Linked DNA regions of Homo sapiens. The protein of the gene in region 7 purifies or fractionates together with the protein of the main gene of each other region. This does not show direct contact. Each region holds a gene or a part of one and is shown on either strand. Other genes may lie near its edges.

What was found.
Region 1: the proteins of ATP13A1 (region 7) and ZYG11B purify together in Homo sapiens (affinity purification with mass spectrometry; 2 studies listed by BioGRID and IntAct, with this or other methods). This does not show direct contact.
Region 2: the proteins of ATP13A1 (region 7) and HAVCR2 purify together in Homo sapiens (co-immunoprecipitation; one large-scale study listed by IntAct). This does not show direct contact.
Region 3: the proteins of ATP13A1 (region 7) and TMEM169 purify together in Homo sapiens (co-immunoprecipitation; one large-scale study listed by IntAct). This does not show direct contact.
Region 4: the proteins of ATP13A1 (region 7) and RIC3 purify together in Homo sapiens (co-immunoprecipitation; one large-scale study listed by IntAct). This does not show direct contact.
Region 5: the proteins of ATP13A1 (region 7) and SPANXN3 purify together in Homo sapiens (co-immunoprecipitation; one large-scale study listed by IntAct). This does not show direct contact.
Region 6: the proteins of ATP13A1 (region 7) and CD33 purify together in Homo sapiens (co-immunoprecipitation; one large-scale study listed by IntAct). This does not show direct contact.

Annotation. Positions count from the first base shown.
Region 1 is NC_000001.11:52,764,453-52,767,952, reverse strand, and holds part of ZYG11B (protein zyg-11 homolog B), read right to left. Parts: intron 1-3,500. UniProt on the Homo sapiens protein: Serves as substrate adapter subunit in the E3 ubiquitin ligase complex ZYG11B-CUL2-Elongin BC. Acts to target substrates bearing N-terminal degrons for proteasomal degradation with the first four residues of substrates being the key recognition elements.
Region 2 is NC_000005.10:157,095,545-157,099,044, forward strand, and holds part of HAVCR2 (hepatitis A virus cellular receptor 2 precursor), read right to left. Parts: intron 3,358-3,500; coding exon 3,314-3,357; intron 1-3,313. UniProt on the Homo sapiens protein: Cell surface receptor implicated in modulating innate and adaptive immune responses. Generally accepted to have an inhibiting function.
Region 3 is NC_000002.12:216,088,419-216,091,918, reverse strand, and holds part of TMEM169 (transmembrane protein 169), read right to left. Parts: intron 1-3,500.
Region 4 is NC_000011.10:8,138,026-8,141,525, forward strand, and holds part of RIC3 (protein RIC-3 isoform a precursor), read right to left. Parts: intron 2,169-3,500; coding exon 1,942-2,168; intron 323-1,941; coding exon 247-322; intron 1-246. UniProt on the Homo sapiens protein: Molecular chaperone which facilitates proper subunit assembly and surface trafficking of alpha-7 (CHRNA7) and alpha-8 (CHRNA8) nicotinic acetylcholine receptors.
Region 5 is NC_000023.11:143,511,356-143,514,475, forward strand, and holds part of SPANXN3 (sperm protein associated with the nucleus on the X chromosome N3), read right to left. Parts: intron 1-3,120.
Region 6 is NC_000019.10:51,237,798-51,240,516, forward strand, and holds the end of CD33 (myeloid cell surface antigen CD33 isoform 1 precursor), read left to right. Parts: intron 1-1,720; coding exon 1,721-1,891; 3' UTR 1,892-2,219; downstream 2,220-2,719. UniProt on the Homo sapiens protein: Sialic-acid-binding immunoglobulin-like lectin (Siglec) that plays a role in mediating cell-cell interactions and in maintaining immune cells in a resting state.
Region 7 is NC_000019.10:19,646,677-19,650,176, forward strand, and holds part of ATP13A1 (endoplasmic reticulum transmembrane helix translocase), read right to left. Parts: intron 3,265-3,500; coding exon 3,065-3,264; intron 2,988-3,064; coding exon 2,891-2,987; intron 1,084-2,890; coding exon 923-1,083; intron 853-922; coding exon 738-852; intron 650-737; coding exon 453-649; intron 1-452. UniProt on the Homo sapiens protein: Endoplasmic reticulum translocase required to remove mitochondrial transmembrane proteins mistargeted to the endoplasmic reticulum.

The DNA.
Region 1 (3,500 bases), on a different chromosome or scaffold from region 7:
TATCCCCCACCACGATGTTAGTAGATACCTTCTGGGGAGCCTGAACTTCAACACTCATCAAGCAGCGATGAAGTTCTCTACCTGCTTCCCTGCTGGGGTGCTGTCATAGGAAGTCTAGTGGAAAGTCAGGACTTTCACAACTGCCCAACAGTAATGAGGCCACCTCCTCCCAACATGGTGTCAGTAGAAGCCAACTGGGAAGCAGAAATGACATACCCATACCCCTCTCATTTAGGGAAGTATCAATAGAATCCTAGTGGGGAGTCAGAATTCCAACCTCTGCATAGCCCTGCACCTTGGGTGTCAAGAGAAGCCAAGTGGGGAACCAGAAAGAACATTAACCCTAATCTGGCTGGGCATAGTGGCTCACACCTGTAATCCCAGCACTTTGGGAGGCCGAGGCGGATGGATCACAAGGTCAGGAGATCGAGACCATCTTGGCCAACATGGTGAAACCCCGTCTCTACTAAAACACAAAAAATTAGCCAGGCCTGATGGTGCCTGCCTGTAATCTCAGCTACTTGGGAGGCTGAAGCAGGGGAATCGCTTGATCCCAGGCGACGGAGGTTGCAGTGAGTTGAGATCGCACCATTGCACTCCGGCTTGGGCAACAAGAGCGAAACTCCACCTCAAATATAACATAACATAAAATAAAATAACAACATAACATAAAATAAAATAACAAAATAAAATAACATAAAATAACAACATAAAATAAAATAACAAAATAAAATAACATAAAATAACAAAATAAAATAAAATAACATAACGTAACAAAATAACATAACATAAAATAAAATAACAAAACAACATAAAATAACAAAATAAAATAAAATAACAACATAAAACATAACAAAATAATATAACATAAAATAACATAAAAAATAAAAATAACATAAAATAAAATAACATAAAATAAATAAAATAAAATAATTTTTTTTTTTTTGAGACGGAGTCTCGCTTTTCACCCAGGCTGGAGTGCAGTGGCGCGATCTGGGCTCACTGCAAGCTCTACCTCCCGGGTTCACACCATTCTCCCGCCTCAGCCTCTGGAGTAGCTGGGACTACAGGCACACGCTGCCATGCCCAGCTAATTTTTTGTATTTTTAGTAGAGACGGGGTTTCACCGTGTTAGCCAGGATGGTCTTGATCTCCTGACCTCGTGATCCGCCCGCCTCGGCCTCCCAAAGTGCTGGGATTACAGGCGTGAGCCACTGTGCCTGGCCTATAAAAATTTTTACAAAGAACATTAACCCCAATCTGGCAGTAACAAGGCAGTGCTCCTACCTTCCACTGCTGGAGTGACGTCAGTGACTCAAACTAAAACAGAAAAGTCTCATATCACCTAAAATGTCCTGGTTTCAATAAAAAATTACTCTGAATCATACTAAGAACCAGTAAGACTTCAAACTCAAAAAGAGATAATCAATATATGCCAACAGTAAGGTAACAGAAATGTTAAAATTATTTGACAACGATTTTAAAGGAGCCATAAAAAAATGCAATTAAATTTTCAAAAGTAAACAAATATGCTTGAAAAAAAATGAGTAACAGACCAGGCGCGGTGGCACTTTGGGAGGCCAAGGCAGGCAGATCATGAGGTCAGGAGTTCGCGACCAGCCTGACCAACATGACGAAACCCCATCTCTACTAAAAATACAAAAATTAGCTGGGCATGGTGGCACACGCCTGTAGTCCCAGCTACCCAGGAGGTTGAGACAGAAGAATCACTTGAACCTGGGAGACAGGGGTTGCAGTGAGCCAAGATCGCACCACTGCACTCCAGCCTGGGCGACACAGCAAGATTCTCCATCTCAAAAAAAAAAAAAAAATTTAAAAAAAATTTAATAAGGAAAAAAAGAAAAAAATGAAAACAGACTCAGCAAGGCAAGAGAAGATATAAAGAAGAATCAAATAAAAATTTTAGAAGTGAAAAATATAATAATGCTTGAGGTCAACAGTAAAATAGAGAACAGAGAAAAAAGACTGGTGAACTAGAAGATAAAACAACATAAATTACCTAATTTAAATAACAAGAACAGAATGGGAAAAAAACCAAAACCAAAAACCTAAAGCTATATTTGTGTCACTGGAATATCTCAAGGACAGGAGAAAGACAGTGTGGCTGAAAAAGTACTTAAAGAAATAATGAGCAGGCACAGTGGCTCATGCTTATAATCCCAGTACTTTGGGAGGATGAGACAAGAGGATTACCCGAGGCCAGGAGTTTGAGACCAGCCTGGGCAACATTGCAAGACTCCATCCCAACAACAAAAAATTTTAATTAGTCGGGCATGGTGGTACATACCTGTAGTCCTAGCTAGCTAGTCGGGAGGCTGAGGTCGAAGGGTCGCTTGAGCCCAGGAGTTTGAGATTATAGTAAGCTATGATTGCACTCTAGCTTGGGTGACAGAGTAAGACCCTGACTGGGAAAAAACAAAAAACAAAAAACAAAAAACTGAGTGTGGTGGCTCATTCCTGTAATTGGGAGGCTGAGGTGGGAGGACTGCTTTGAGCCCAGGGGTTCAAGACCAGCCTGCACAACATAGAAAGACATCATCTCCATTACAAATTTTTAAAAATTAGTCAGATGTTGGTGGCATGCACCTGTGATCTCAGCTACTTAGGAGGCTGAGGCAGGAGGACTGCTTGAGTCCAGGAGTTCAAGGCTGCAGTGAGCTATGATCATGCCACTACACTCCAGCCTGGGAAACAGAATCAGACCTTGTCTCAAAAAATAATTTTTTTTAATTAAAAAAAAAGATAGGCTGGATGTGGTGGCTCACGCCTATAATCCTAGCACTTTGGGAGGCCAAGGCAGGAGGACTCCTTGAGGCCAGGGGTTCAAGACCAACCTGGCCAACATAGTGCGACTCCATCTCTATTAAAAAAAAAAAAAAGATCACTCAGAAAAATTGGAAGCAGTGGTTTACATGGAGTTAAGGGAATTTTATCTGATGGCTTCAATTTTCTTCCTAAGATAAATGGTAGAAAGTCTGAGAAGAGCAAAGAACATCTGAAACTACTGTTAGGAACACTAGTTTACTGGGGAAATACTCCAGAACTCCTGGGCAGTGCCGAGGAGCCCGCCTTTATGTTACTGACTTCCCTCCTTGTCATTCAGGTCTCAGTCTAGTATCACCACTTTAGAAGCTTTCTCTGATCATCCAAGTTAAAACATCTCCCTTCCTTTATTATTCTTCTTAAGAGAACAGTGTTCTTTTTCCCTCAGAGAACCTGGCACAAGCTGTAATTCTATATGTTTACTTCCTAATTGTGTCTCCCACTGGACTATACGCTCCATGAAAGCAAGATTCATGTTGCATTCATTGTCTTATTTAAATATTCACAGTAATCCCTGTGAGGGAGTTATAATTATCAACACTTTACAGATGAGGAATCTTAGACTTGCAGAGTAACTTATCCAGGGTCAAAGAGCAAATTAATGTTGGAACCAGGACTCAGACCTAGGACCGATTTATAGAACTCATGCTCTTTTC
Region 2 (3,500 bases), on a different chromosome or scaffold from region 7:
CCTTTTACAACATCACAGGATGGCTGAGTCCTTCAAATCACCTTTGATCTGTCACCTTGTAGCCAACACTCAAGCCAACCCAAGAAAGGGTCTCCCTTAACCTTTGGAGTTAGCAAGGAAACAAAATGTGCCCTTCTGTGTTGTGGGTAGAGAAGGAGCTCTTAAAAAAAAAAAAAAAAAAAGAGAGAAGGAGCTCTTAAGACCCTTTCCCTGCCCCTGCAAAAATTGGCTTTAGAGTGGAGTCTTGTTGGTTCAAGATCCCCTAAGATTCCCCAGAGAGTTTTAGAGTAGTTTACATTTAGTGTCTTGCTATGAAACGTCTATTTTTCACAAAAAGACAGTGATTCAATAGCCAAGACTTTACAGCCAGACGGTCGTGGATTCAAATCCCAGCTCTGAGGCCGGGCGCGGTGGCTAATGCCTGTAATCCCAGCACTTTGGGAGGCCTAGGCAGGCGGATCACCTGACATCAGGAGTTTGAGACCAGCCTGGACAACATGGTGAAACCCCGTCTCTACTAAAAATACAAAACTTAGCCAGGCGTGGTAACACATGCCTGTAATCCTAGCTAGTGGGGAGGCTGAGGCAGGAGAATCACTTAAACCCAGGAGGCAAAGACTGGAGTACTCGAGTTGAGATCATGCCACTGCACGCCAACCTGGGCAACAGAGCGAGACTCCATCTCAAAAAAAAAAAAAAAAAAAAAATTCCCAGCTCTGCCACTAAGGGCTGAGTAATCCTGTAGAGTTATCAGGAAAACTAAGTGAGAGAAAATATAAAATGCTTAGTACAGGGCCTGGTACATAATAAATGTTCAATCAATCGTAGCTATTATTGCTATTGCTCTAGTTAACTTGATTTTCTGATAACTGAGAGCCACACAAAATAAATCCTGTTTCTAAAATTTCAGTCTATGGGTTCTCTCTTTTTCTCTCTTTAAAAACAATGATTAGGCCAGGTGCGGTGGCTCACGCCTGTAGTCCCAGCACTTTGGGAGGCCAAGGCAGGCAGATCACGAGGTCAGGAGTTCAAGACCAGCCTGGCCAACATGGTGAAACCCCATCTCTACTAAAAATACAAAAATTAGCCAGGTGTGGTGGCGGGCACCTATAGTCCCAGCTATTTGGGAGGCTGAGGCAGGACAATCGCTTGAACCCAGGAGGCAGAGGTTGCAGTGAGCCAAGGTTGTGCCATTGTACTCCAGCCTGGGCGACAAGAGCAAAACTCCATCTCAAAAATAAATAATAAATTAATAAATAAATAATAATTATAGGCCAGGCTCACACCTATAATCCCAGCACTTTGGGAAGCTGAGATGGGAGGATCACTTGAGACCAGGAGTTAGGGACCAGCCTAATAATATTGAGACCCCATTTATACAAAACACACACACACACACACACACACACACACACACACATATAATTATAAGCATTTTTAAAACAATGAATTTAAGGAAGTTAAATCTTCCATTTATTCAATATACATTTACAAATTGATTCAATACACATTACTCCTGCAATAACAGGAGTCCTATATGCAAGATATTGTGCATTAAGCATTGTGGGCACATACAGGTCCTTAAAAAGCACTGTTTGATTGCAAAGAGAGAAGGAGCAAATACAAGATGCTGAGCATCAGTTGTGAATACACAAGCAAGAAACTGAGTCAAATAAATGTGGGCTCCTGGATATGCCCTCAAGTAATTTTTTTTTTTTTTTTTTTTTTGAGACAAGGCCTTGCCCTGTCACCTAGGATGGAGTGCAGGGGCATGATCACAGCTCAATGCAGCCTCAACCTACTGGGCTCAAGTGATCCTCCTGCCTCAGCCTCCCAAGTAGCTGGAACTACAGGTTTGCAGCACCATGCCTGGCCAAATTTTAAAAAATATTTTTTGTAGAGACAGGGTGTCACTATGTGGCCCAGGCTAGTCTCAAACTCCTGGTCTCAAGCATTCCTTCCACCTTGGCCTCCTAAAGTGCTGGGATTACAGGCATGAGACACTGTGCCCGGCCTCCTCAAAGAATTTTTAAGTCATTGCTGCAAGCTTGCCTTCTAGTGGTTTTTCTTTTATGAGGGAATTTCGCTCTTGTTGCCCAGGCTGGTGTGCAGTGGCGCGACCTCAGCTCACTGCAACCTCCACCTCCTGGATTCAAGCGATTCTCCTGTCTCAGCCTCCTGAGTAGCTGAGACTACACAGGCACACACCACCATACCTGGCTAATTTTTTGTATTTTTAGTAGAGATGGGGTTTCACCATGTTGACCAGGCTGGTCTCAAACCCCTGACAGGTGATCCACCCTACTTAGCCTCCCAAAGTGCTGGGATTACAGACGTGAGTCACTGCGCCCAGCCAGTTTTTCTTTTATTCTGAGAAGGTAGCAGGGACAGTAAAATTGAGGTTTATTAAGGTATGGCTTTATTTATAGTTAAATACATAAAACTGGCTGGGCACCATGGCTCATGCCTGTAATCCCAGCACTTTGGGAGGCCAAGTTGGGCGGATCACCTGAGGTCAGGAGTTCAAGACCAGCCTGACCAACATGGAGAAACCCTGTCTCTACTAAAAATACAAAATTAGGCCAGGTGCCATGGCTCACGCCTGCAATCTCAGCACTTTGGGAGGCCGAGGCAGGTGGATCACCTGAGGTCAGGAGTTCAAGATCAGCCTGGCCAATGTGGTGAAACTCCGTCTCTACTAAAAATAAAAAAATTAGCCGGGTGTGGTGGCTCATGCCTGTAATCCCAGCTACTCGGAAGGCTGAGGCAGGAGAATCGCTTGAACCCGGGAGGCGGAGGTTGAGGTGAGCCAGGATCACACCCTTGCACTCCAGCCTGGGCAACAAGAGCGAAATTCTGTCTAAAAAAAAAAAAAAAAAACCTCTTCACTTTGAATATTCCTGACTGGTGTCTTGCCATATTTAAAGAGATAAATTTAAATACTCTTTCCCATTAGGATTGCAATGGAAGCAAGAAGAATGGTATTCTAGGGAGATGAAGAATCTTTGAACCTTCCACAGGGTAGACAGTTGTGAAATTGAAGAATAAGAGGGACAAAATGCTAATGTTTCTTCTTTGTGGTTTTCAAGCTCTTACTATATGCCAGGCACTTTACACACATCATGTCAGTCCTTCATTACAGCAGGCCTATGAGGTTAGAACTGTCATCATCAACATGTTACAGCCCAGGAATCTGAAGCTAAGGGAACTTAAGGCTTTTTACCCCAAGGACAAGGTGGGCATGAAGGAAGTCTAAAGCCATGATTTCCCCTCCAAGTTGAGTACAACATAGCTCACAAAAAAAGTTACTTACTGTTAGATTTATATCAGGGAGGCTCCCCAGTGTCTGTGTCTCTGCTATAAAAAGAGAGAGAGAGAGAGAGAGAGGAAAAATAGCCAATAGTATAGTTAAGAACGTTTTCTTTTATCTAAGTTTTTAAAAAATCTTAATGATGCCTATAATCCTATTTGAAATGAATTCTACTCCGTACTTGTCACAA
Region 3 (3,500 bases), on a different chromosome or scaffold from region 7:
AACACTATCCTTTGAGACTACAAAACATTCCCACAAACTTAGGAAAAGATGGGTTATTTTGTAGTCATGGTAAGTAGACAATAGAACCAGTTTTAAACCTGTTCAATTGATCAACAACAATCTCCCTCAGTGTCTTAGTGCATTTGGGCTGCCATAAGAAAATACCATAGACTAGGTAGCTTATAAACAACAAGAATTTATTTTGTACAGTTCTGGGAGCAAAAAATCCAAGATCAAGTTTAGGGGTTTGGTAGGACTCACTTTCTGGTTCATAGATGGTGCCTTCTCACTGTGTTTTCACGTGGCTGAAGGAGCTGACTAGCTCTCTGGGTCTCTCTCTTTTTTTTTTTTTTTTTTTTTTTGAGATGGAGTCTCACTCTGTCGCATAGGCTGGAGTGCAGTGGCGCAATCTTGGCTCACTGCAACCTCTGCCTCCCAAGTTCAAGCAATTCTCCTGCCTCAGCCTCCCAATTAGCTGGGACTACAGGCACACGCCACCATGCCCAGCTAATTTTTGTATTTTTAGTAGAGATGGGGTTTCGCCATATTGGCCAGGCTGCTCTCAAACTCATGATCCGCCCGCCTTGGCCTTCCAAAGTGCTGGGATTACAGGTGTGAGCCACTGAGCCTAGCCTCTGGGTCTCTTTTATGGGGGCACTAATCCCATTCCTGAGGACTCCACCGTCATGACATAAAGCCTCACCTAATGCCATCACTTTGGGGGCTGAAATTTCAACATATGGATTTGGGGGGAAAACAAACCATACCATAACACTCAGCAAACATGTTTTTGGAAATTAACCCATCCAGTCAGTCCTTTGTTTCTGAAAGTCAATCAGGTGAGTGGCTCTGTCCCTGTTTGGCTGACTTTCACACTAGTGTGAGTTGACTTTTGGCCAATCAGGGTCTGGCACTCTGATGATGGCTTTCAAAAATGTATTCACTTAGGCAGTTGTTGATTGAACATGTTTAAAACTAGTTCTGGTGGCTACTTGTTATCAAGGCTACTGTAAAAACAGTGTTTTCCTAAATTTGGGGATCCTTTTTACTGTTAGTTTCCTGCAAGTCTGGAATATATCAGATGTCACAGTACAAGAATATGAATTATCTGTTGTGATGTAACAAATTACCCAAGAAGTAAAGGTTTAAAACAATAAAAAAGTTATTATCTCACACAATTATGTGCGTCAATAAACTGGGAGTGCCTTAGCTGGGTGGTGAGTAGTCTTCTCTACCTGCTTCCTGCCTATAGAATTTGGAGGTCCAAAAGTGTTTTTTTGTTTTTATGGTTTCTGAACCTTTTAGTATTCTGTGAATAGAATTTTCTCAACATTTCTGTGGGATTCCTATAAATAGTTTCTCTGAGTCAGAAGTGTGAGAGTGGCTTAGCTGGTTTTGTTTCAAGATCTCTAAAGATGTCAGGGCTGCAGTCATCTGAAGGCTTGAATGAGGCTAGATCTGCTTCCAAGATGGTTCACTCATGTAATGCTGACTCAGTTTCTCTCCACATGGGCCTCTCCATGGGCCATCTGAGTGTCCTTACAACAGTGGCTGGCCTTCCCCAGCATGAGTGGTCTGAAAACAGGTATTTTCTTTGACCACCCCAACTTGACTCTTGATCCCCATCTCTTCCTCATCTTTGATTTCCTCCTTCTCCAATAGCTCCAACTTCCTTCTACTGGCTCTTTCCCCTTTGCCTTCAAACTCAGAGTTCCTTATCTAGAAAAAAATAACTTTACCTTGCCACTTTACTCTCTCTGATAATCTCATTTTTCTCCAACCAAGCTTTTCTATCAAATAGTTTATAGCCACTCATATCCAGTTCATCCTGCAATCTTCTGCCCTTTCTCCCCACTCCCAACCTCTGTACACACACAGACACACACACATGCACGCACGCACACGCGCAAGTCACTTGCAAAGATGAGAAATAGGCCAGGAAATTAGCATTTATTGAGCCTTATGTGTCAGGCTGTAAGGTAAACTCTTTATAGATGTTCTCTTACTTGCATCTCTCAACAAGCTTGACAGGTAGGTCTTATTTTCCACACTTGACCTATTAGGTTCAATGCGTTAAATATAGCAGTGAGAGAACTTGGGTTTAATTCTATACTTGCATAACTCTAAAGTCCAGGATTTCCCCACCAAGATTTAGAAGAAGTCAAGGCCAGGTGTGGTGGCTCATGCCCGTAATCCCAGCATTTTGGAAGGGCAAGATGGGCGGATCACTTGAGGTCAGGAATTCAAGACCAGCCTGGCCAACATGGTGAAACCCTGTCTCTACTAAAAATACAAGTAGCTTGGCGTGGTTGTGCACGCCTGTAATCCCAGCTACTCAGGAGGCTGAGGCAGGAGAATCGCTTGAACCTGGGAGGTGGAGGTTGCAGTGAGCTGAGATCGTGCCACTGCATCCAGTCTGGGCGAGAGAGTGAGACTCTGTCTCAAAAATAAAATCAGTAAAATAAAATAAAATGAAAATTAAAAATAGAAGTAGTCAAGTGGTAGTAGCTGCAGTGAACAGCTGATGGTTTTTGGTTTTTTGGTTCTGTTGTTTGCTGTCCAAAACCCTATTTCTCCTTCATTTGATGACAGATCCACTCATTTTGGTGAGAAACAGTCTTGAAAGTCCCTGATGTGATCACAGTGACCACTTCACCATTCTTATTCTCCTTGTCACACCAAAGCTGTTGATTCCACTAATTCCCAAATCTTTCTTGAACCTTCCCTCACCTCCTTTAACTTTCTACTCTCATTCTCTTTTACCTCTCAAACCTTCCTTCTGTTTCTTTTGCTCCCTTATCTGCTTTCTCCAACCCATAATTGCCAGTGTTTTCTAGGCCCGATTCTTAATTCATTGTCCTCTATTCTCAACAGCACACTCTGTTCCTCTTGTTAAAATATACAGCCTTCCTGCACACAGCTGTAGGACCACTTCTATGCCAAGAACGCCCAAATGTAGATCTCAAGATTGTATCTCCAATAGCCTGGCGAATATTTTCTAATTGAATTATTTAGCAAAGCATGTTCAAACCAAACTCATCTTTATTTACAGCAGAGAACCTCTCAGTGTTACCGAGAAAAAAGGAGAAGGGGGAAAGGAAAGGAGAAAGGGATAAAGAAGGAAACACCACAACATTTATGGAATTTACCGATTGTGTAATTTGGTAGGTTCTGTGTTGATTATACAGTACATGCATTATCTCACTGAATTACACATTCAAAAAATATTTACGTATTCATTTATTTTTAGAGATGGGGTCTTTCTATGTTGCCCAGGCTTGACTTGAACTCCTAGGCTCAAGCAATCCTCTCACCTCAGCCTCCTGAGTAGCTGGGACTACAGTCATGTGCAACTGTGCCCAGCTTCAGTAAATATTTATTAAGCAACACTATGTGCTATATATTGCATAGTTGTTCTAGGTACAACAATTTTTGTCTGTTTGTTTGTTTGTTTTGAGACGGAGTCTCGCTCTGTCGCCCAAGCTGGAGTGTAGTGGCGT
Region 4 (3,500 bases), on a different chromosome or scaffold from region 7:
AGTCATTCCAAACGTGAAATATTAATTTGCTAATATATTAAAAAGTGAACTGGTGGTTTTGTACTTTTTGTAGTACATCAATATAAAAACTTTTGAGAATTCCCAGAACTAAGGCAAAAATGGCATCAGATTAATTTGGAGCAACTTTTGAGAAATGCTTTTAAGACATACCCACAGACTGTCCCTGTGGCTATAAAACTGTTTGACTCAATAATACCTGTGAATATACTGAGAAGGGGCACTTACTAATTTTCCTGTGGGTGTTTCCAGGCATGGCAGTATAGCATTTCCCATCCTCTGCAGTTGTTTTCCCCTTTGAGAGCTGAGAATTGAAGGAGGTATAGCACATCAACAGCAGCTCAGAACCTCAGTCACGGAACCCCTCATATCAAACAAAAAAAAAAGGTTGGGAAACAAAAATGAAGGTCAGAAATTAAATCAAATAGCAACACTAGAGAAATAGCTCAAAAAAAAAAACGCCAAAAGATGAGGTTTCCAAGTAAAAAATTATCAAAGCACAAGTGTAAAAAGTAAAGTAGAGATTCCTCTTCAAAGAGACTTTACTCCCCATATAATTAGGAATAGTAACTTCTCTTAGAAGCAAAATTTATTCAAGAACCTGTGCTAACATGCTTAGATATCTGCTAGCCATAATAAAGAAATCAACTGTTCTTAGCTCCCACAGTTTAGCCTAAATATTTGCCCTGGCATGCTTATACTTGTCAAAGCAAGCATGAGGTCATAGCCTGTTCCTCTTCCTTATATGAAGGTGTTTTTACCTTTCTCAGCATTCCACAAGTTAGTTCCTCCTTCCTTTGTTCTCCTCTGCCTTTGCCTCTTTTAAAAAGTTCTAAGTCGCTAGCCAATCAGCACAAATACAGAATGTGAGGTCCCGTTCCAGCCAATGGAAACCGGACACAGCAGTAAGGTGGATGCGTCAGGTTATAAATGACCCTGTCTCCTTTGTTCGGTGTACTCTCACGGCAAAACCGCTGGTGAGTGTACCCTTTCTGCAGAAAGTAAAAATGGCCTTGCTGAGGAAATTAAATGTACGTCCAAGTGCTGCTTCTTTATGGCACCAGAGAACAAGCATTTCTAACACAAGGGAAAAAAAATCTCCCTACAGGTCATCTTCCTTGCTCATGCTCATCTAAAAGGGATGTGTGGCACCCTATGGGCATTCTTACAGACTCAACTCAGACTGCCTGCAGAATTCCTGGGCGAGAAAGAACTCATCTTATTTAAGCTTACTCTAGACAGGAGGGCAAAGTGAGTCTTCTGCCTCTAATTCACAGTACAGGGGCCAGGGGCCTGCAAAGGCCTGCCTGGAGGTGGAACTCAACTGGGGGTCTGCTTTAAAGAACCTACACCCATGTCTCCCCAGAGCTAGGAAATATCAGGCTTAATTTCAGGAGGGACAGTTCTGTCTCAGGAGAATTATTGGAGATAATATTAAAAACAGCATCTCAAATTCCTGTGGAGAAACAAGCAGGATAAAGTGGTGTCATTATTTGGCCTTACAATGGCTATTTGGAAATCACTGTGCCAATCCCAATAATAAAAGCTCTTCTTAGAAAATCTTTATTCCTTTTCGGCCTGTAAAGATGTTAATTTTTTTTTTTTTTTTTTTTTTTTTGGCAGGGGAGTGCATTGAATTGTATCACTCACTGGATTAAGAACCAAAAGATCCATGTTCAAGTCCTAGTTCTGCCTTGTTAGTTGTGAATTTTGGGGCAAAACACTTAAACATTGAGTAAACATTTCTTATGTGAAACTGAAATAATGGCTATCCTAAGTACCTCATGAAGAGGAGGCAGGATTTAAAGAGATGATGGATTTGAAATAATTTTATGAACTATAAGAAGTTTTAATGTAGACAATGATTTTTATTGCCATATTAGATTTTCATTGATGTAATATGATTAGGATGATTCTACTTACCTTAAATAGAATGTACAGTATATATAAAAAAATCCCAAAACCGTAGATTGGAATAATCTGCCCCATCAGACCTCTTCCACTACCTCCTCCTCCAGCACCTCCACCTGATCCTTTGGCCTTTGCAAATGCCTCGGCAAGGTGAGACCTCTGGAAACGAGCCCCAGGAGTCTGGCCATCTGAGGGTGCCTGGTGATGATGCATCATAGGTGGAAATCGGCCCAATTTTCCTGAGAAAATAATAATCACTTTTTATCTCTTCTACTATTTTAAAGATGGCTATCATGAAAACACCAAATCATTAAGGTATAAAAGAGGCCAACACAAACAAGTAGAAGAAAAAAATGGCAACTTAATTAAAAGGATACAGAGGTATCACACATATCCTAAATATGATGTGATCATCTCTAGCTGTTCACCAAACCCATTTTCTCTTCCCTCTGGGTCCTTAGCTGGACCACATTTTTCAGACTCCCATACAGTTAAATGTGGCCATATAAACTGAGTTCCAACCAAGGAATGTGACTAGGACTGTGCTAGCTCAAGGCCTGGTCTATAAAATCTCCCTTGTTATTCAACTCCGTGATCATTTCTTTTCTGCAGCATGGATGCTAACACCCACGGGGACCTTGGAAGCCACGGGTAGAAACAGCAAAGCCTCCATCAACCTGATTCCTAAATAATTATGTAGTGCAGAGCCCTCCACTGCTGCCACCTCACTAACTTAGAGTCATCTGGACCTGTCTGTAAGAGTGAGAAATCAACTTCTATTGTGTTAGGGTCATTATACACTGTGGAATCTATTTGTTACAGCAGTTAGCCACCCCTAACTAATACAGATAAGAAAATACAGACTAACAGCGGATCTCTCGGCAGAAACCCTACAAGCCAGAAGAGAGTGGGGGCCAATATTCAACATTCTTAAAGAAAAGAATTTTCAACCCAGAATTTCATATCCAGCCAAACTAAGCTTCATAAGTGAAGGAGAAATAAAATACTTTACAGACAAGCAAATGCTGAGAGATTTTGTCACCACCAGGCCTGCCCTAAAAGAGCTCCTGAAGGAAGCGCTAAACATGGAAAGGAACAACCGGTACCAGCCGCTGCAAAATCATGCCAAAATGTAAAGACCATCGAGACTAGGAAGAAACTGCATCAACTAACGAGCAAAATCACCAGCTAACATCATAATGACAGGATCAAATTCACACATAACAATACTAACTTTAAATGTAAATGGACTAAATGCTCCAATTAAAATACACAGACTGGCAAATTGGATAAAGTCAAGACCCAACAGTGTGCTGTATTCAGGAAACCCATCTCACGTGCAGAGACACACATAGGCTCAAAATAAAAGGATGGAGGAAGATCTACCAAGCAAATGGAAAATAAAAAAAGGCAGGGGTTGCAGTCCTAGTTTCTGATAAAACAGACTTTAAACCAACAAGATCAAAAGAGACAAAGAAGGCCATTACATAATGGTAAAGGATCAATTCAACAAGAGGAGCTAACTATCCTAAATATATATGCACCCAATACAGGAGCACCCAGATTCATAA
Region 5 (3,120 bases), on a different chromosome or scaffold from region 7:
TTTTCCTCTCCCGCCTTTTCAAAGGTCACAACTAAATATGCCACCTTAAGCCCTAATACCATTAAGGGCAAAATCTACCTCCATTTACACTTTATCTCCCAGTCAGCCCCAGACATTTGAAAAAAAACTTTAAAAAGTGGAGGATGGCCCTCAAACCTCCAAAGAGACTTAATCAAAGTGGCCTTTAAGGTCTATAAGATTAGAGAGGAAGAACTAAAAAACCCAAACCTAAAAAAGGGCCAGGCTAAATATCAAATGCTGATAGCTGCCACTCAACAGGGTTCCCAAGGCATACAGAATTCCTCAACTTGGCAACAGTCAACTCCAGGAGCCTGTTATAAGTGCATCCAACAGGGACACTGAGCAAAAGCCTGGCCTAATCCCGTGACACTCTGGAAGCCTTGCCCCATCTGTGATATCAAGCAACACTGGAAGTCAGACTGTGCTCAGTGAAACTCTTCATCTAGCTTCACCACCTGTACCTGAAGACAGGTGGGGCCTAGAGTCCACCACCCCTACTGCCATCACCACCTCGGAACCCAGGGTAATTCTGTCAGTCTCTAGTAAGTCCATGTCTTTCCTATTGGATACTCAATACGACAACTAGTTACTCGGTTTTACCAGAATATTCTAGACCCTTTTTCTGTTCTTCGATCTCTATTGTGAGAATCAATAAAATCCCCTCTAGGCACAGACTCGTCCTTTATTATGCAACCTATTCAACAGCCCCCTTCACCCACTGTTTCCTGGTTATCCCTCAGTCCCCTACCCCTATCTTGGGGTGGGACATATTAAGTAAATTCCAGGCCTCCATGCAATGCGGCTCCTACAATTCTACCCCTTTTATTTTACTCCGACACCCAAACGCTTCCCTCTCCCCCTACTCATCCTCATTATCCACCCTGTTACCTTCTGTTAATTCTAAAGCTTGGAATGTTTCTAAACCCACAATAGCCACACATCACATCCCAGTTAAAATAACCTTTCAAAACTCCTCCATTTTCTTTTTTCAGTCTCAATATCCCCTTAATCCAGCCGTGCTTAGGGGCCTCAAACCTATTATTTGTAAACTTTAACAAGCTCATATTCTCAAGCCTGTTAACTCTCCCCAGAACACCCCTATTCTGGCTTTCCAAAAGACAGACGGGACTTACCCCTTTGTCCAGGATCTCCAAGTTGTTGACCAGGCAGTGGTACCAATACATCTAGTGGTCCTCAACCAATATGCTCTACTCTCCCATATTCCTAAATCTACTACACACTCCTCTGTATTGGAACTGAAAGATGCCTATTTCACCATTCCCTTAAATCCGGCTTACAGAAGTCTTTTTGCTTTAACTTGGTCAAGTCCTAATACTCACATGTGCACCCAACTAGAGTGGACTGTACTCTTACAGGGGTTCCAGGATAGCCCCCACCTATTCAGACTTGCCCTCATCAAGGACCTAGGTGAACTTTCCCTTGCTGCTAGCACCCTCCTGCAACATGTCAAACTCCTTCTCTGTAGCCCCTTCCTTAACCTGTCCATCCAACACACCACTTAGGTTTTAAACTTCCTCCATAATAGAGGAAATCTCAGGTAGCCCAAACCAAAGTTTGGGCCTAGCCCACAATATTTCAGGTAGCCCAAACCAAAGTTACTTACCTTGGGTTTGTCCTAACCCCTAATTCTCGAGCCATCCCAACCCAATGAAAGGAGCTAATTTGGGACATGCCCTTTCCTCACACAAAAAAGTACCTTCTCTCCTTCTCGGGCCTTGTGGGTTACTTCTGGCTGTCAGTTCCCAATTTTGACTTGCTGGCCAAGCCACTAAACAGGGCCTCACATGGGCCCATCCTAAAACCCCTAAACCCAGCTTGCCCCATCAACTCCCACTTAAAAACTTAAAAATGCCCTTTTAATGGCCCTGGCACAGGGACTGCCCAACCTCACCAAGCCCGTTACTTTGTATGTACATTCTGACCAGGGCCTTGCCCTTGGACTACTCTGCCAAACATACGGCAACGCCACACAAGCCACTGCACTTCTCTCAAAACAACTGGACTCTGTTGTTTTGTGTGACCAAGGCTGGTCACTCTGACTAAAAATCTTGGCTGTGGCCACATCGCTGGCCTTAGAGGCACGGAAACTCCCTCTTTACCAACACATTACTATTGCATCTTCCCATTACCTACAGGACCTCATAAACCATCAATCCCTTCTATCCCTCCTACCATCCTGCTTATAACAGGTACATGCCTTATTCCTAGGTAGCCCTCTAATCCCCTTCCAGAGATATAAAACTCTCAACCCAGCCACCCTCCTCCCTGTAAACACTTCCGATTCTAGGCTCTCTCACTCCTGTCTGGACCTCTTAGACTCCCTCTCCTCCTCCTTCCAACACATTTCACATGCCCCTTTGCAGGGAACACATACACGGTTAGTTAATGGAAGCTCTTTTAGGGAGCCATGTCCAGCAGCTGGCTATTCCATCATTGCTGAAAATAAACTCCTAGAATCCAATGCTCTGCCACCCCATGCTACCTCTCAACAGCCTAAGCTAGTTGCCCTAACCAGGGCCCTCACCCTAGCAAAGGGAAAGAGGGTCAACATTTACACCCATTCCAAATATGCATACCATGTCCTACAGTCTCATGCCTTCATCTGGCAGGAACAGGGTTTCCTAACTACAAAAGGAACTCCCATAAGAAATGGCAAACTTATACATAAGCTGCTGGGGGTGGATAAACTACCACCAAAGGCCACCATTATCCATTGCAAGGGGTGCCGAAAGTCTAAAGATGCCATAACCGAGAGAAACCTTTCAACAAATTTGGCAGCCTGGCAGGCAGCCCTTAAAACCCCATCGTTATTGCTCATTTTTTCCTGTATATACCCAGAAGGAATGAACCCCACTTGCCCGGGCTGGTGCCATTCAGGAAAAAATTGTTTGATCTCAGTGATAAAGTGTCTTGTCCAAGTTTAAAAAACCTTCTGTACTTTCATATGTGCACAACCATTTCCATGCTGCTTACTGCCCCTACTCCAGCTTTTAGAAAATTATATACATTCTTCTGCCATGGCTGCCAATCTGAAATATATTACTAAGGCATGTTCCCTTTGCACTCAAACTTCCCCTC
Region 6 (2,719 bases), about 32 Mb from region 7:
GTCACTCTGGCTGCTCTGTGAGAAACTCTAGTATGTAGTATAGAAGAGAAGATACCAGAATAGAAGATACACAGATAATCAAGCCAAGAGATGACTGACTCAGACTTAGTCCCAAGTAAGAATAATGAATCTGATGTGGAGAAATTGGGTTCCGGATACATCTTGAAGGTGGAGTCAACAGTATTTGCAAGTGGAGTGATGGAGTGCATGCAAGGCATGAGCAAAGATAGCTCACGGGCTCTGCTCGATAAGTGTCTCAGATGTCATAGGTGGGTCCACAGATATCATAGATGTCATGGATGTCCAAGAAGACCCCATAGATGTCATAGATGTCTATAGATGCCAATGATGATGTTCATGTGGTTAACTCAGAATTCAAACTTAAAAAATCAAATTGCCAATGATTAAAATTGCCATCCTTGAAGGAGAAGTCTATTTTCAAGTGTATATCAAACATTATTTTGGTTACCGTAAGTTTGAGGTGCCTCTGAGACATCCATGTGGAGATGACAAGTAGCAGGCAAGTGTCTGGAGCTCAGAAGAGGGCTCCACGTGGGAGACACAGAGGTTGGGAGCTTCCCTATCAACATCCAATAATCGATGAATCTACAAAGAAGAGAAGGGGTCCACAGACACAGCCCTGGAACCCTCCAGCATTTAATGTTAGGGAGATGAGGTGTAAATGGTGAGAAAGCTGAGAATGAATAGGAGCCAATGACCAGGAAATTGCAGGCTGTAGTGTTGGTGGCCAAGGGAAGATGGGGCTTCATGGAGGAGAGGTTGGTCATTTGTTTCAAATGCTGGTAAGTCTGGTAAGATGGAATCTGAGAAATGGCTATTTGAATGTAGCTAAGTGGTATGACAGCAAAGCAGATCTGATTTTTCTGCTGGAGGAAGATCTCTTGACTAGAGAGAGTTCAAGAGAGAATGGGAGGAGAAGAGGCAGAAACTGTGAGTTGAAGGACTCTTTTGAGAAACACTGCCCCAAATCTAGAACCAAGAAATGGGCCTGCACCAGCAAATGGTTGTACCCTGTAGACTTGCCATTTCTCCAGCATCTGCTCCTGTGTCTCTTATGATACCATGTTCCCTGTTTGTGTAGGGCTTTGCACCACTTGAACTAACTGCATTCCCATAGCTTCCCCTACCACACCATGAGCTCCACAAGGAAAAGCCTGGGTTTTATTAGACCTCCATCATTCTACTCTCTCCTGTTCATCTGCACACTGTCACAATTTGCAATTACCAGTCTGTTTCTGTCTTCATCCCCTGCAGTACTGGAAATCACAGGGCCCCTGCTCTGCTCTGCTCCCTCCTGAGGATCCAGTGCCCAGCACATAGGAGGTCCCAGAGACCTGGGACCGAGTTCAGGGTCAACAGATGTGTGACTTTGGAAATTACCTAAGCTCTCTGAGACCTAGTTTCCTGGTCTGTAAAATGGATTAAAATAATAGATGCCAAAGATGATGTCAGTGTAGCTGCCCAGAATTTTTCCACATTAGTCTCTGTGAGTATTCAAGAGAATTGCGAATCAATCAATACGTGCTACATGTGTTAGATAATGAATAAGTAGAGCCTTAATTAATTAACATTTGATGAAAGAATGAAAGAGTGAATAAATGTTCTGTCAGAGTCAAATTTACTTCATTGACCCTCTTTGCCTTCTCCTGGTCCCCCTCCTCACTGCCCTGCTCTAACCCCCTTCTTTCCTCTCCATAAGAAACACCAGAAGAAGTCCAAGTTACATGGCCCCACTGAAACCTCAAGCTGTTCAGGTGCCGCCCCTACTGTGGAGATGGATGAGGAGCTGCATTATGCTTCCCTCAACTTTCATGGGATGAATCCTTCCAAGGACACCTCCACCGAATACTCAGAGGTCAGGACCCAGTGAGGAACCCACAAGAGCATCAGGCTCAGCTAGAAGATCCACATCCTCTACAGGTCGGGGACCAAAGGCTGATTCTTGGAGATTTAACACCCCACAGGCAATGGGTTTATAGACATTATGTGAGTTTCCTGCTATATTAACATCATCTTAGACTTTGCAAGCAGAGAGTCGTGGAATCAAATCTGTGCTCTTTCATTTGCTAAGTGTATGATGTCACACAAGCTCCTTAACCTTCCATGTCTCCATTTTCTTCTCTGTGAAGTAGGTATAAGAAGTCCTATCTCATAGGGATGCTGTGAGCATTAAATAAAGGTACACATGGAAAACACCAGTCCTGGTGCAGTGAGAGTTCGGTGCATACTGGTTCCTTCCCCCTTGAACAGAAGTCATTAGTGATATTTGATCTCTGGAACTATATCAGCAACATGTCCATCTCACTTGCTGCTCAAAACCCCACCATATATGTCTTCCCTGACTTACCCTCCAACATCATCTCTCTCCACTCCTGAATCTTCTCTTTTCATCTCACCTGTCCCCTACTCGGATTTCTGCTTTCTTTATGTCCTGCTACAGGGAAAATCACATATTAGCATTTGGGGAATTTTCTAAAACTCAGAGCTGACCATAGTGAAAATAGTTCCCTAGATCCCCAACCCACAGGAATAATTTGAAGCTTCTCAATGTGACATTCTAAGTCAGAGATGGTCAACCAGTATTAGCAAAGGGCCAGATAGTAAACATGTTCAGTTTTGCAAGCAATGTGGTCTCTATTGCAACTATTTAATTCCGCCATTGTAGCAACAAAGCAGCCACAGACAATCTGAAAATGAA
Region 7 (3,500 bases):
CACCGGGGACTCCCTGCGTCAGCCCATGCCTGTTTGGGGCCTTTGTGTCCAGTTCCTGGCCGCTGGCCCCCCTGGTTCTTTACGCCTTGGCCTGAGTGTCGGTGTCGCACAGGCCTCCCCAGCTGTCCACCAGCCTGTCCTGTGTAGCCTATGACCCACTTAGTTGTTTTTTTACCCTCTTGATGATTGTTCCTTGCTTGTGGGGCTCTGTGGGGCCCACCCCTGGGACCCCTACCTGTGGACAGGTGTGGACGCCAAGCTGTACCACCTGGAGGGGTCTGGGAGCCTCAGTCCACACCTGCCCTGCCAGCATTTCCTGAGCCATCCCAGCTACAGCCCCCATCTCTGGGGCCCTGGGTCCTGTAACTTGGGGATGACAATTCCCGTGCCTATATCAGCCTGGCCCTGGCAGGCCCATGCATCCCTGGCCTTCCAGCACCTCTGGGGCCCACCTTGGAACGGGAGATGAAGAGGAAGCAGCCGGCCAGCAGCAGCCCCTGTAGGGTGGCCTGGAAGTCACTGAACTTGACTCCCTCCAGGTAGAGGACGCTCTGGCTGTAGGCCAGGATGAGGGCATTGAGCGCCAGGATCTTGAACATCTGTAGCGTGGTCACCAGCGTGCAGCGGCCCTGCTTGATCACGTGGCAGACTGCAGGGTGGTGGGGAGGCAGGTGTGGGTGTGGGTAGGGGTGCCAAGGGGGGAATGAAGGGAGGGGGAGCGGGGGCAGGCAACTCACTGCACTGGATGGATGAGAGCTTGGAGGTGAAGGGTGCTGCGATGCTGGCATCCCCCAGTTTCACAATGGGCGTACTCTCGTCCTCGAGGTCTCGCAGCACCTGGCTCAGGCGGTCCTGCAGGGTAGACAGCAGGCTGTCAGCCCTGGCCAGGATGGGGTGCAGCACCTCCCCTCTTGGGACTCACCCTCTGGGAGGTTGGCTGCTCCTCGGAGGGAGGGAGCCCCGACCGCTGCTTGGCTGTCCTGGAGGTGGCTCTGATGCCACTGTTGCTCAGGGTTGGGCTGTCCCGGGGCCGCCGTCGCCGCTCGACAACCCGCTCAGGGGCATTGGCCAAGAGCGCCACACCTGGGGGGCAGGAGGGTGTCAGACCCGGAGGAGCAGGCTCCACGGAGGGGAAGATTGCTGGCTTCAGAGCCACTGGTCCTGAAGTCCCCCAGCTGGCTCCCGTGAGGACAGTTCCCAGACTTCCCCATTTCACCTGACACCCTAAGGAGACCTCAGAGAGTGCCCGTGTTGCTTTCTACAAACTACTTTAAGAAAACAAACCACCAACAATAAACCCCCACAACAAATGCAATGAAAAAACACACAACACGAGATAGGTCAAAACTAAACTGATTTTGGCCGAGCGCAGTGGCTCACACCTGTTATCTCAGCACTTTGGAAGGCTGAGGTGGGCGGATCACCTGAGGTCAGGAGTTTGAGACCAGCCTGGCTGATACGGCGAAACCCCGTCTCTACTAAAAATACAAAAATTAGCCAGGGGTGGTGGCATGTGCCTGTAATTCCAGCTACTCGGGAGGCTGAGGCAGGAGAATCGCTTGAACCCGGGAGGCGGAGGTTGCAGTGAGATGAGATCACACCACCGCACTCCAGCCTGGGCGACAGAGCGAGACAGTCTCAAAATAAAACAAAACAAAACAACCTAAACTGATTTCAAAAGAAATAGCCAAGGAGCATGATTCTAGGAGGCAAACAACACTCAATAAATGCTTTAGTAGATAAAAGCAGATAAATATTGGAAAAGCAAAAAAACCAACGTAAGATTGATCTTTAAAATTCAATTTAACACCTGAGTTCTTGCAAAAAAAAAAAAAGAAAAAAGAAAAAAAGGCCAGGTGAGGTGGCTCACACCTGTAATCCCAGCACTTTGGGAGGCCAACACAGGCGCATCATCTGAAGTCAGGAGTTGGAGACCAGCCTGGCCAACATGGTGAAACCCCATCTCTACTAAAAATACAAAAATTAGATGGGCATGGTGGCTGGCGCCTGTAATCCTAGCTACTTGGGAGGCTGAAGAAGGAGAATTGCTTGAACCCGGGAAGTAGAGGTTGCAGTGAGCTGAGACCGTGCTATTGCACTCCAGCCTGGGCAACAAGAGAGAAACTGTCTCAAAAAAAAAAAAAAAAAAAAAAGGCAGGGTTCGGTGGGATGCAGTGGTTCACACCTGTAATCCTAGCACTTTGGGAGGCCAAGGCGGGTGGATCACTTGAGGTCAGGAATTGGAGACCATCCTGGCCAACATGGTGAAACCCCATCTCTACTAAAAATACAAAAATTAGCCAGGCATGGTGGCACGTGCCTGTAATCCCAGCTATTTGGGAGGCTGAGGCAGGAGAATCGCTTGAACCCGGGAGATGGAGGTTGCAGTGAGCCCAGATCGTGCCATTGTACTCCAGCCTGGGTGACAGAGCAAGGCTCCGTCAAAAAAAAAAAAGACAGGGTCTTGCACTGTCACTTAGGTTAGAGTGGATCACACCACTGCCTTGAACTCCCAGACTCAAGTGATCCTCCCGCCTCAGCCTCCCAAAGCACTGGGATTCCAGGCAGGAGCCACAGTGCTCAGCCATCTGTGTGCTTTTGACAGAGATCTGGGGCTATGAACCATCTTCATGGCTTCAGCTCTGGGTTTTCTGAGTCACTCTCCCAACTTGTTGCCTCTCTCCTGGCCTCTGGCCTCCGCCCTGCTCTGTTCCTGGGATATTCGCATCCCTTCCTGCCCTCAAAGCCCCTGACCTTGCCACCCCCTCCCATCCTCACAGGAATTAGTGCCCCCGTGGCTGTCACCAAGGGCCAGGTCTGTCTTTCTAGCTCAGTGACATGTCCTCAACACCTCGTCCACAAACGAAATACCCTAGCCCACAGCACTCACCCACGTCAGCATGCTTCAGGGCGCCCACGTCGTTGGTGCCATCCCCACACATGAGGGTCACGTAGCCCAGCTCCTTCAGGCTGGTGATGACAAACTCCTGTATGGGCGGAGACAGGCTGAGCAGGGGCTGCGTGCCTACCGCTGTGCCCCTGACCCCTAGGGCTGTGCACATACCTTCTGCTTGGGAGCCACACGGGCGAACACCTGCACATGGGGGATGAGGCGGAGCAGCTGCTGGGGGTCGGTGGCCTGCAGGTGGGCCAAGCCGTCGCCTGTGAGGCACAGTGCGTACTCCAGGGCCAGTGCCTTTGGGGAGCCCCGGGCCAGGGGCAGCACGATGCTGCCGTCAATGGAGCGCCACTCGCACTGCCGGCCTGCGGGCAGCACCTAGGGTTAGGGCTGGGGGCTTGGCTGACCGGGCTCAGAAGCACCCTCCCTCCACTCGGACCCCAGCACCAGCCAGTCTCTCCTCTCTGGAGCCCGCACCTCCCTACCCACCCAGGTGACCCCCAGCCCTTCTCTGGGGACTCCACAAAGAATGTCCCTCAGGTGCACAGGGTGGAACCAAGAGCCTGGGGCCTGAGCTACTTGCCTGAGAGCCCGGGACACA